2 separate regions of the Homo sapiens genome follow, and region 2 is linked to region 1. Evidence: fine-mapped expression QTL. A gene starts in region 1. The other region holds a variant in brackets. All regions are shown on one strand. Distances are between the middles of the regions. Region 1 holds the start of CAPN15 (calpain 15). Region 2 overlaps RAB11FIP3 (RAB11 family interacting protein 3).

Region 1 (5,224 bases):
AGGCGGGAACTTCTCCCAGGGCCCCGTCCATTGTTATTTTCACCTGTCCGGCCGCCCATTCTTTTTTTGAGACGGACTCAGTCACCCAGGCTGGAGCGCCATGTGCCATCCCAGCTCACTGCAGCCTCAACCTCCCGGGCTCAAGTGATGCTCCTGCCTCTGCCTCCCAAGTAGCAGGGACCACAAGCACACACCACCACACCCTAATTATCTTTTAAGTGGAGACAGGTTTCGCTTTGTGTGTTGCCCAGGCTGGTGGTCCGTCGTCTTTTTGACCCAGGCCTGTGTGGCTCACAAAGCAGGCAATTGCAGGGTCATCCCATCAAATCTGAGCATGGCACCAGAGCACACAAGTCAGCCACCTGCGGGCCTTGGCACCCTCGTGCTCCACGCCAGGGTCCCTGTGTGCTCAAGTCTGGGCTCCATGATGGCACTGGGGTTTGTTCTGTTTGCTGCTTTGTGCGCGTGAGGCTTTCTCTGGGTGCCTGAACAGATGCCTCCAGTTTCAGTTCTTTCTGTTTGGCCCTCCCCATCCTCTTCTCCTCCAGGGGGGATTCATGGCTCGCCTCTTGGCTCTTCTGGGCACTTGGCGAGCTTCTGCGCACTTGCGTTAGCTGCTCAGGTCTGTCTGGATGTGAGAGTCGTGTCCTCAGGCCAGGAAGCACTGGCACGGAGCAGGGCTCGGTCAATGGTCTGGATAATCCAGAGTCACTTACCTTCTGCTGTGCAGTCATTTACAATTCACGCCTGTGTGCCTGATGTCTTGTGACTCAGAATCTTCAAGACAATCACAGGCTGGCCTCACGGAGGCACGAGTGACTCATTTCTCTCATCGCACCCATTCCCTCCAGCACTCTCCTTGTGCGGGGAAACCTCAGTCACCTTGAAGACGCCTCCTGAGGCCCTCTTCTGGGTGAATGGGCTTCCTCCTTCACCATGACAGGCTACTGGGGAGAGCTGGGGTGCTCCCACCCTCTCCTCACCCCAAATGGGCCTGGCCTAGCAAAACTGGCCAGAACTGGCCACTCTGCAGTGAGCTGGCAGGGCCCTCAGCATCAGATCAACAGGTTCAACTGCAGCTGCCTCTCTGGTGGGGAGGTTATAAGGCCTGCTGGCTAGACCACTGGCCCCTGGCCAGGGAGCCACCTAGGCAGTGCCAGGGAAGGACTGGGAAGGGAAGAGAACCTGCGGTCCCTGAGTGAGGCCTTGACTGCACCCTCTCCTGTGGTTCGAAAGCCACACTTGGCCAGTATCCTGCCATGCAGGTGAGGAAGCTGGGGAGGACAGGGTCCCAGAGCCTTGTCCAAGTTGCAGAGAGGAGAGCCAGCTCTCACTCTGCAGCCCTCTGTGCCCCCAGACCCCCACTGGCCCCCGGGGACACATTTCCTGCCCTTGGGATGCTTTGGCATGGATATAGTCTGGGAACAAACGGCACATCCAGCTGCCCTGCCTGTCTCCACAGAGGGGGCAGCAGACCTAGGGGGAGGTGTCCAAGACACAGGAATGAAGTGTCCTTACCAAAAGCTTCCGAGGACAGAAATAAACCCCTCCTGCCAGCTTCTGCACTGACTGCAGCTAGAAGCCGAGCTCCACGTGGGACACAGGTGTCCCTGCTGCGGCATCTCAGCATGACGGAGGCCCATCCTTGGCTTTCCTGGAGCATGAATATCCTCTGAGGAGCACTGGCCCTGGCCTTGTAGGTCTTGCTGAGACTGGCTTAGATTTTCTGGCCCAGGAGCAATCGTCACCCAACCTCCCACTTGTAAATCTCGCCACAGAATCGGCCCACAACCGTCTCTCCGGAATCTCGGCGGACCAGCCCTGCTCCTGTGTCTCCCTCTCCCGCAGAGCCACTGCCTTCTCAGGCTCCTCAAGTGCACCTAAGAGCGGGAGTCTGGCTGCCCTCAGCACTCGCGTCCCGCCCTGCAGCCTGATAAGCTTGACGCCAAGGCATTCTCCCGAGAGCCGGCCCAGCAGCTGCTGGCAGGAGAGTGGCCTCAGGGCAGCGGGAAGGGGACCTCCGGGGAGAGAATGAGGCCTGCGCAAGGGTCCTGGAAGGACCCAGGAGTCGCCCCGGCTTCCCTCCCCCAGGCCCTGGTTGGGCGCCGTGGGCCGCGTCCCAGTTGAGCCCGGCGTGGCCGTTTAATGGCGTCCCTCCGCGACCGAGGACGAAGGGGCCTAGAGAGGCTGTGCCCAAGCGACGCTGCGAGGCCAGGCCGCGTCTCGGGCCAGGGCGGTCCCCTTGCCACCGCCGCTCTTGGCCGCCAGGACCAAGCACAGCACGCAGCGTCGCGAAAGGGGCGGTCCTGGAAGGCGCGAAGGGGTCTCCGGGTCTCGCGAACACGGCGGGGTCGGGGCGGAGTCGTGGGTCCTCGGTCGAGCGGCCGCCCAGAGCCCCGCGGGACACGGACGGCCCCAGCCCGGCTCCCCGCGAGCCCCACGCGTCTGTGACGCCGCTGATGCGCAGACGCCGCGGCTGCAGGCCCCGCCCCTCCGTGCCCCTCGCAAGGCCCTCTGGGAGTTGTAGTTCCAGCTCCTCCTCGGGCCGCCCCACTCCCTGATAATCCTGGAGCGCGGCGCCTCCCGGGGACCGAGGCCTCGGGCCCGGCCGTCTCCAGCAGCGAGGGCAGGAGAAGTGGCCCGGGCGGTCGGCGGACTGGGAGGGCGCCACCCGAGGACTACAACTCCCGGCCTGCCTCGCGCAGGCACCGCCCCGAGCTTCCGCCCCGTCGGCGCCGCGCAGCCCTGTGGGAGCCGTAGTCCGGGCGCGCGATTCACAGCGCCGCGTGCGCCCCGGGCGCGCCGTAGCCGCGGGGCCCGGGCCGGGCGCTACGCTACGAAGGCAGCGTAAGGCGGGCGCCGGACGCGGGCAGGGGCCGGGGCCGGAGCCGGGTCGGGGCGCCCCGCGGCTGAGGAGCGGGAGGCCGTCCGGGCAGCGCGGCCGGCGGCGAGAGGGGCCCCGCCGCTCTCCGGAGGCAGAAGTTGTGGATCGGCCGGCGGGGGCGAGCGGGCCCGGGGGCCGGGGCCGCGCTGCCCGGGCCGCGAGGACGAGGCGGCGCCGCCGGGCTGTGGAGGTGAGTCCCGTCGGCCGGGCCCGGCCGGGCGCCCAGCCGGGGACCCCGGGCGGGGAGCGCGGGCCCGGAGGGCGGCGGGGAGCGCGGGCTCGGCGGGGCGCAGGAGGCCTCGGGGGCCGGGCGCGCCGGGCTCCGAGCCAGGGCAGGGACGGCAGGGCCCCCGGAGTGGGGTCAGCCCGCCGCCCGCTGGCGCCTCCAGGCTGGTGGGGGCCAGGGCTGGGCGATGCTTCGCAGAGGAACCCAGAGGAAGGCGGGAAGTCGGCAGGGACCTGGGCCATGTGGGTCACTTGAGGCCAGCCCCGGGGGCCGCGCACACCGGAGGCGGCCTCGGCCCTGCCTGCCCTTGAGTGCCCTTATATCCGGGCCCATCGTGCGGTCCTGGCCGCCTTAGGGATGTTGTGCTTGGTGCGGGCATCACTCCCCTCACTTGGGGAACGGCCTGGGGGCGGCCACCTGGCGTGGAGGGGCTGGCGGGAGCCCCGTCTGTGCCAGCCATGCCAGTGTTCTCTTCCGTGTTCCTCTGGGGCTGCTGCGGCACCAGCTGGGAAGTTGCAAATCTGCTGTCCTCCCGCTGGCTGCAGAAGGGGCCCCTCTAGTCCTGACCGGGGGAACTCTTGTGTGGTCAGCTGGCCCTGGCCGGGCGAGCTCTCGGGGCCCCCTTACTGCTCTGGAGTTTGTTACCGGACTGCAGGTAACAAGACCCGGAAAGCAATGGTGAGGCCCAGAACCTGAGGCCAGGCCTGGGTGTGTGGGGCCAGTGGGGAAGACTGGGACTCCGTTGGGTGCTGAAGAGTTGTGTGCTTCTCCTTCGGGAAACCCGGATCTCTTCCTCTGCCCAGGTCTGAGGGGTGCGGAAACGTGAGTCACAGTTCAGTGTGGGAGTGCCCCGTAATTGCCTCCGCGTTTCCAGAGTCTGGGGCTGGGCAAGGATATAGGGGTGATTCTCCCTTCCGGTTCTGAGTGACTTCTCAACTGTGAAGTGGGGCAAGAGAAATTGTTTTTCTGGCCTGTCTGGGGGAGGCAGGTCCTGCAGGAAACCAGCTTGGCCTGGCCTTGGGTTGGGTGTGCCTTGCCTCCTCCGAGGTCCTTCTGCTTGCGGGAGGAGCACCCCTCTTTTTCCTGCTTCTGTCTGTGTCTGAGGCTCTCCAGAGCTCCTTGATTGGCAGAGGAGCCAGTGACCTCTGAGTCCCCAGGAGAGCCCGAGGCTCAGTAACTGCATAACTGCGCAGGGCCTCTTGTCTGGGCCTCCACAGACCGTGGTCTCTGAGAGCAGGAAGTGGCTGGTCCCCTGTAATGCTGCATCTGTGTGACAGCCTCAAGCCCTGCTGGCTCTCTCTCCGGGCACCCCTCACTTGCTTCTTGCCCTGGCCTTGGGCAGCACTCCGGTAACCCCAGTGCCACAGGTGAGGAACCGAAGCTGGAGACAGCTGTTCATGGCAGGGGAGGGGCCGAGGGAGGCTGAGCGCCTGGTCTCTCCCTCCTGCTGGTTCCACCAGTTCACACGAGGCAATTGGAGGGAAGGATTCTGCTGCCCGGAAAATCCTCCGGAACCACAGGTGTTGTTCATGGGCCTGAGCCGCTCAGTGAAGAACTCGGCCGTTGGTGGCCGAGTTGCCCCTGGTCCAGCCCTCTGGCCCGCGGTGTGATGCCTCTACTCATGGCAACAGGCGTGGACAGGTGCTGAGAAGGAGGACGACATCATTAAACAAAACAGCTTGGGGTCTTTGAAAAACAGTGACAGAAACCCAGGAAGGCTGGTGACTTGTCAGGTCTGTGTCTGTCCTGGGTGGCCACTCGGCCCTGGACCGTGAGGCTGAAATGACAGGAGACACGGAGGGTGGGCTTGGGTGGTTTCCTCATAAGACACAGAAGAAGGAGGCCCCCAACCCGGGGGCTGCCTCGTGCGCTTTGCTCTCCTGTTTTCCTGCTCTGTCCCTCTGGTCCTGCCCTCTGACCCCTGGCACAGCAGGAGTGCCCAGAAGCCCAGTGGGACTTGTTCTCTGCCTAAAGCCCTTCCGCATCCCTCGTACCCACTCGGTGTGGATGTGGGTTTTCTCACCACCAGGCTGTGCCTCAGCTGTGTGGAGCCACTGGCCTCTCATGCCCCACGCTGGAGAGAACGCTGAGGTCTGTGCGGTTCTCATGTGACC
Region 2 (5,224 bases), 53 kb before region 1:
CCGCCCTGTGTGCACCGTGGGGCTCTGTGGCTGTGACGGGAGGCCCACAGTTGTCTGTCCCACACGCCCTGTCAGCCTGGGCAGGAATCCTCCCCCAGGGCCTGTCGCCAGCAGAAGTGGGGTGGGCAGTGATGTCATGACCACCCGCTGCCAGGCTGGCAGGCACAGGCGGAGCAGAGGGCTTGGGAGGATTCCTTTTGTCAACTTGCAAATGATTTTCTGTGTTTGGGGATGCCTGACTAATGCCTGCCCCTGCTTGGCTGTCCTCCACCCTGCTCCCAGATGCAGCCAGGGTTGTCATGGTGACGTGGCGTCTCCTGTGTCTCCTGTCACTGTGGGTCCCTTGTTCTCAACATAGCTGGGGAGAGGGTCTTCGAGCACAGCCGTGGTCGACAGAGCGTAACCATGTCCGCCGGTCTGGAGGGTTAGATTCCAGGAGAGCCACGTGGCTGCAGCAGAAAATGCATGAAGTTGAACTTGAGCCCTTGGGGGCCGCCGGGAAGGTGGAGGTGGCAGCCGCCAGTCCTGGTCAGCCTGCTGCCGAGCAAGGGTACCAGAAGTGGGGCTGAGCTGCTGGCCGGTAGGGCCTGGGCTTCTCATGTCAGTCCTCTGAGCCCTGACTCCTCGAAAGCTGAGGCTGGCACAGGGTAGTTTTTGAGTTGCTTTTGGACGCCACTGTACCGTGGGAGCCATGGTATTATACTCAGTTCCCTGTTCCGAGAAGCTGCCCCAGGGATTAGTCACCCTCACCCTTGGGTGGGCAGCTTAACTTCTGCCCACACAGACCCTGGGGGTGGTTCTGCCTTACGGCGGTGTCCCAGTTATCAGCTGGGCTGCAGCTTCTGGGGCCAGGGCGCCCACCGTGGGTCCCATGTTTGGCCTTGGTGTGCTCTTTCTGCACGTGAGGCAGCAGTGAGGTGCTGGCTAAGAGGGCGTGTGGTGGGAGTTGGACCCTCTCGCATGGCTGCAGTGTGCAGAACGTGCTGGGAGACCCCAGGACTACAGACGGTGGCTCCTGTGCCCTGAGAAGGACCCGGCTTCTTCACGAGGAGATGCCCAAGGCTCTGCAGGGTAACCCAGAGCCCTTGGTCTGCAACGTCCGGGGAACTGTGTGTTCCTGGGCGTTCATGTGCCTGTGCACTCTTTCTCACGTGTATCCGTCTTTTTGTTCCCCTCTCATGTTTGTTAGGGCATTGTTGATTGTTTATATCCTATGTATGGTGCAGTGGCTGAAGAGTGGCCTCTCAAAAGATATGTCCACCCAGCAGCTGTGGATGTGGCCTTATTTGGAAAAAGGGTCTTTGCGGATGTAGTTCATTAAGGATCTCAAGGTGATATCATGCTGGTTTGGGCCCTAAATCCAGTGACAGGTGTCCCTGGAAGACGGGAGAGACACACAGGGGGAAGACCATAGGAAGACAGGGCAGAGACTGACCAGAGCCAGGGAACTCCTGGGGCTCCCAGAAGCCAGCAGAGGCAAAGATGCATCCTCTCCGAGAGCCTTAGGCAGGAGCCAGCCCTGCTCACACCTTGGCTTTGGACTTCGGGCCTCCAGAACTGAGAGGATAAACTGGTGTTTCTTCACGCCCCGTGGTCTGTGCTAGTTCGTTATGGCAGCCCTGGGCAGGGAAACCTTGAGTGACGTTACTCGAGGCACCAAAGGCACCAGTGCATTTTATCCTTAAAGGCCCACGTGGTCTGAAGGGTGTGGCCGAGCCTCACGCTTGTCACTTCAGAAGGGTGGGAACCTGACATGTCAGAGCTAATCCTTCTCATATTTTTAGATCCTGATTTCTTTTTTAGAATGGAAGAAAGTTTTTTGACTTAAAAAAATGAATATGCTTCATGTTTTAGAGCAATTTTAGGTTTACAGAAAATGGAACATAGTGTAGAGCATTCCGGGATCACGTTACATGATTATTTGTTTTGTTTTGTTTGAGACGGTCTGCTCTATTACTCAGGCTGGAGTGTGGTGGTACAGTCTCGATCTTGGCTCACCACAACCTTCGCCTCCTGCGCTCAAGTGTTCTTCTTTCTCAGCCTTTCCAGTGGCTGGGACCACACTCAGTAACCACCACGCCCAGCTGATTTTTTGT[AT/A]TTTTTTTTTGTAGAGATGGGGTTTCACCGTGTTGCCTAGGCTGCTCTCAAACTCCTGAGTTCAAGCGATCCACCCGTCTTGGCCTCCTAAAGTGCTGGTATTACAGGCGTGAGCCACCGCACCCAGCCTGATATGTTAGTATTAGCCAAAGTCCGTAGTTGAGGGTTCACTCTTGGTGGTGTGTATTCCGTGTTTTGACAGGTCCACGATTATAGTGTCACAGAGTCGATTCAGTGCCGGCTCATCCCTCACACCAGCCCCCACAACCACCGATCCTCCGTGTCTCCACAGCTCTGCCTCTTCCAGAACGCCACGGAGCTAGAACCATCTGGCATGCAGCCTTTTCAGATGCGCCTCTTTCCCTTAGTGAATACGCAGTTACCTCTCCTCCATGTCTTGCTTTGCTTTTTAAGGGTGGGATGTAATTTTCCACAAAGTGGAGTTCGATACTGTGAAACTTATGGAAAATTTGCTCTTTTAAAAAACAGCTTGCACATCATGTCATCTTAAAAAAAAAAAGTCTAATAAAGATATGAGTAGGGAGTATGTGTTCCATCCAGATACCCTATTCGGGGACCCTCCACTGGTAGTCTTCAGGTAAATAAACCTTTGATTGATTGGTTGATTGGTTGATTGATTGATATTCTGAATGGTTCCAGTCAGACCCATTTCTCTTTACTGGGAGCATCGCAGTGCTCACACCGGGGTGGTCGGGTAAAATGTGCAGTTAGTCATGGCCGAGCTAGTGGGTCTGCTGGCTCGCACTGTTTTCCCAGGGATCCTTTCAGCAGGCAGCTTATAACGGGAAAGTTGCTGCTATGGTGTCTGAGTAAGTGGGGAGAGTAGAAGGGGATGGACTGTGGCGCCGCTGAGTTCCTGGGCATGGTGATGTCTGAGGATCTGAGCAGGTGGAGCCCAGGGGGTGGTGGGGCTGTTTGTCGGGTTTCTGGAAGAGCGAAGGGAAAGTCAGGGAGTGTAAGGCGCATCTCACAGAATCGTCGGGCCGCGCTCTCTCCCGTCCTCCCTCCTTCTCCCACTACTGGCGATGTCTGGAGCAAAGAGCTGCCTTAGTGAAATGATAGTGAAATGTGTCTTTTGTGCAAACCATTATCAGCTTAGGAAGCCAAAAACAAAAGCCACTCTGTTTTCAGCCCTGACTGACTAACCGTTTTTTAAACCAGCAAGGACACTTCCTGAACTTTGCCTTCCCCTCCCTGGGCAACACCAGCAGGAGGTTTATTAGAGCGTGTCTGGGAGCAGGTTAAACTTTCTCCTAGGTGGTGATGTGCCTCCAGGTGAGCGCACAGGCTTTGCAGAAACCCCAGCATGACAAGCAAGTAGGAAGGTGACATTGTTGTTTGAGAAAAGCCAGTGACCCGGTTGGGACGGAGACACGATGGGGAGCCGGTCTCCAACAGCATGCCCTTCCTGAAGGTGTGTACAGAGCCAGGCCCAGCCTGTGAGGCCACCCGGGCCAGCATCTGAGGGTAAGAGGAGGCAGTAGTGTGCACTGTGCCCAGTATTCCTATTTCTGTGGTGGAGAGAGGCTCAGGGAAGAAGGAACTGTGACGGGGACAGTGTTGGCCCCACTTGAGTTACTGATGGCCCTGAACGGGCTTTTTCTCTGTCCGCTGGTGATTTAGGGGACTTGTTAATTAGTGAATGTAACGTTTCAACATAGCGACGTTTTCCAAGATGCACTTTGATTTTCAAGCGAGTTCATCTTAACATTGGTAATTTGTAAAAATGTTAAAAAGTTGGTAGCATAGACTTGATGGCTTCTGGGCAAGGCCAGGTCCTGGCTGGCTGGCAAATAAAATAAACTGCCGGGGCCGGTGTGAGCTGTTACTGCATTTTATCCAGGAGGCCGGGAGTGAGCAGGCACCGTGCTCTGAGGTACATTTTTGTCTCTGGAAAGGCAGGTGATGGCTGCCCTGGAAAACTCCATGTAGGGAGGCCTTGAACTGCAGAAACCAACCCGCAGGGCTGAATTGGGAAGTGAGCAGGTGGGGTGGCTCCTGTGAGCCTCATGAGCTGTCTGGAACCCCCAGGGCATCCAGCCGGCCAGGGGCTCTGAGTATCGATGGCGATGGCATGGAAGTGGACGTCCACAACCCCAGAGCAAATAAAGGGGTGGGTGCAGTCACCGAAGCCGCTGAGGAGTGGAACTGTTCATCTCTGTGGGATCTACAGTGCACGGAGCCACTCTGCAATGGCAGGGAGGCCCGGCTTACTTTATTTTTTATTTTTTAAATTGTTTTTTGAGATGGAGTCTCACTCTGTCACCCAGGCTGGAGTGCAGTGGTGCGATCTTGGCTCACTGCAACCTCCACCTCCCAGATTCAAGTGATTCCATGCCTCAGCCTCCTGAGTAGCTGGGATTACAGGCGCCCGCCACCACACCCAGCTAATTTTTGTATTTTTAGGAGAAACAGGGTTTCACCATATTGGCCAGGCTGGTCTCGAACTCCTGGCCTCAAGTGATTCACCCACCTTGGCCTCCCAAAGTGCTGGGATTACAGTGAGCCACTGCGTCTGGCCCTCAGGCTTACTTTAGAAATGAGAAGGTGAAGGTGGGTCCAGAGCGGAGCGTGTGAGTTCCAGGCTTGGCAGGGTGCCCTGGCATCCAGCTTACAGGGAGTCTGAGTTTGTGTAGAATCTGCCTCATTGTTCCTGTGTCCGTGGAGAATTCTTTCCATCCCAAACCATCCTGTCTAAGCTCTGAGGAGGCACAGGTGGCTCTAAGGCGGCACTGGCTTTTGCCTGCAGGGGCACCATCCTCAGCTACAGGTCTAACAGGAACTTGGTGAAATAAGCAGGCCCCACTGCCCGGACCTCCCTCCCTTCGTAGGACAGATGCTCTGCTCAGGGCTCCATGAGCTGTTTGAGAGAAGGTGTGGGTTTGTTCTTAGAAACATCATGCTTTCTGTTGGGGACTTAGGGTCCACACTGGCCAGGGAAGGGCATCGGGCATCTGTCAGAAGTACCAGTCCATTGACTTTTTAAAAGCTGGTCCAAGGTCAGGTGCGGTGGCTCATGTCTGTAATCCCAGCACTTTGGGAGGCTGAGGCAGGAGAATTGCTTGAACCCGGGAGGTGGAGTTTGCAGTGAGCCGAGATTGCGCCA

The links. PIP is the estimated chance that this variant, and not a neighbour inherited with it, causes the effect.
Region 2: its variant is fine-mapped to the expression of CAPN15 in whole blood (TOPMed, PIP 0.92).

Annotation. Positions count from the first base shown.
Region 1 is chr16:524,956-530,179 of GRCh38, forward strand. It overlaps CAPN15 (calpain 15), which reads left to right and starts at 2,757. Exons shown (of 14, transcript NM_005632.3): 1 at 2,757-3,074. LINC00235 (long intergenic non-protein coding RNA 235) reads right to left here and starts at 2,452. Exons shown (of 1, transcript NR_024121.1): 1 at 1,892-2,452. RefSeq lists an enhancer at 1,316-1,877.
Region 2 is chr16:471,514-476,737 of GRCh38, forward strand. The region is part of intron 3 of RAB11FIP3 (RAB11 family interacting protein 3); the gene reads left to right. Among named protein-coding and RNA genes, the nearest start is that of RAB11FIP3, 48 kb to the left of the region's middle. The variant AT/A (reference allele first, on the strand shown) is at 2,097.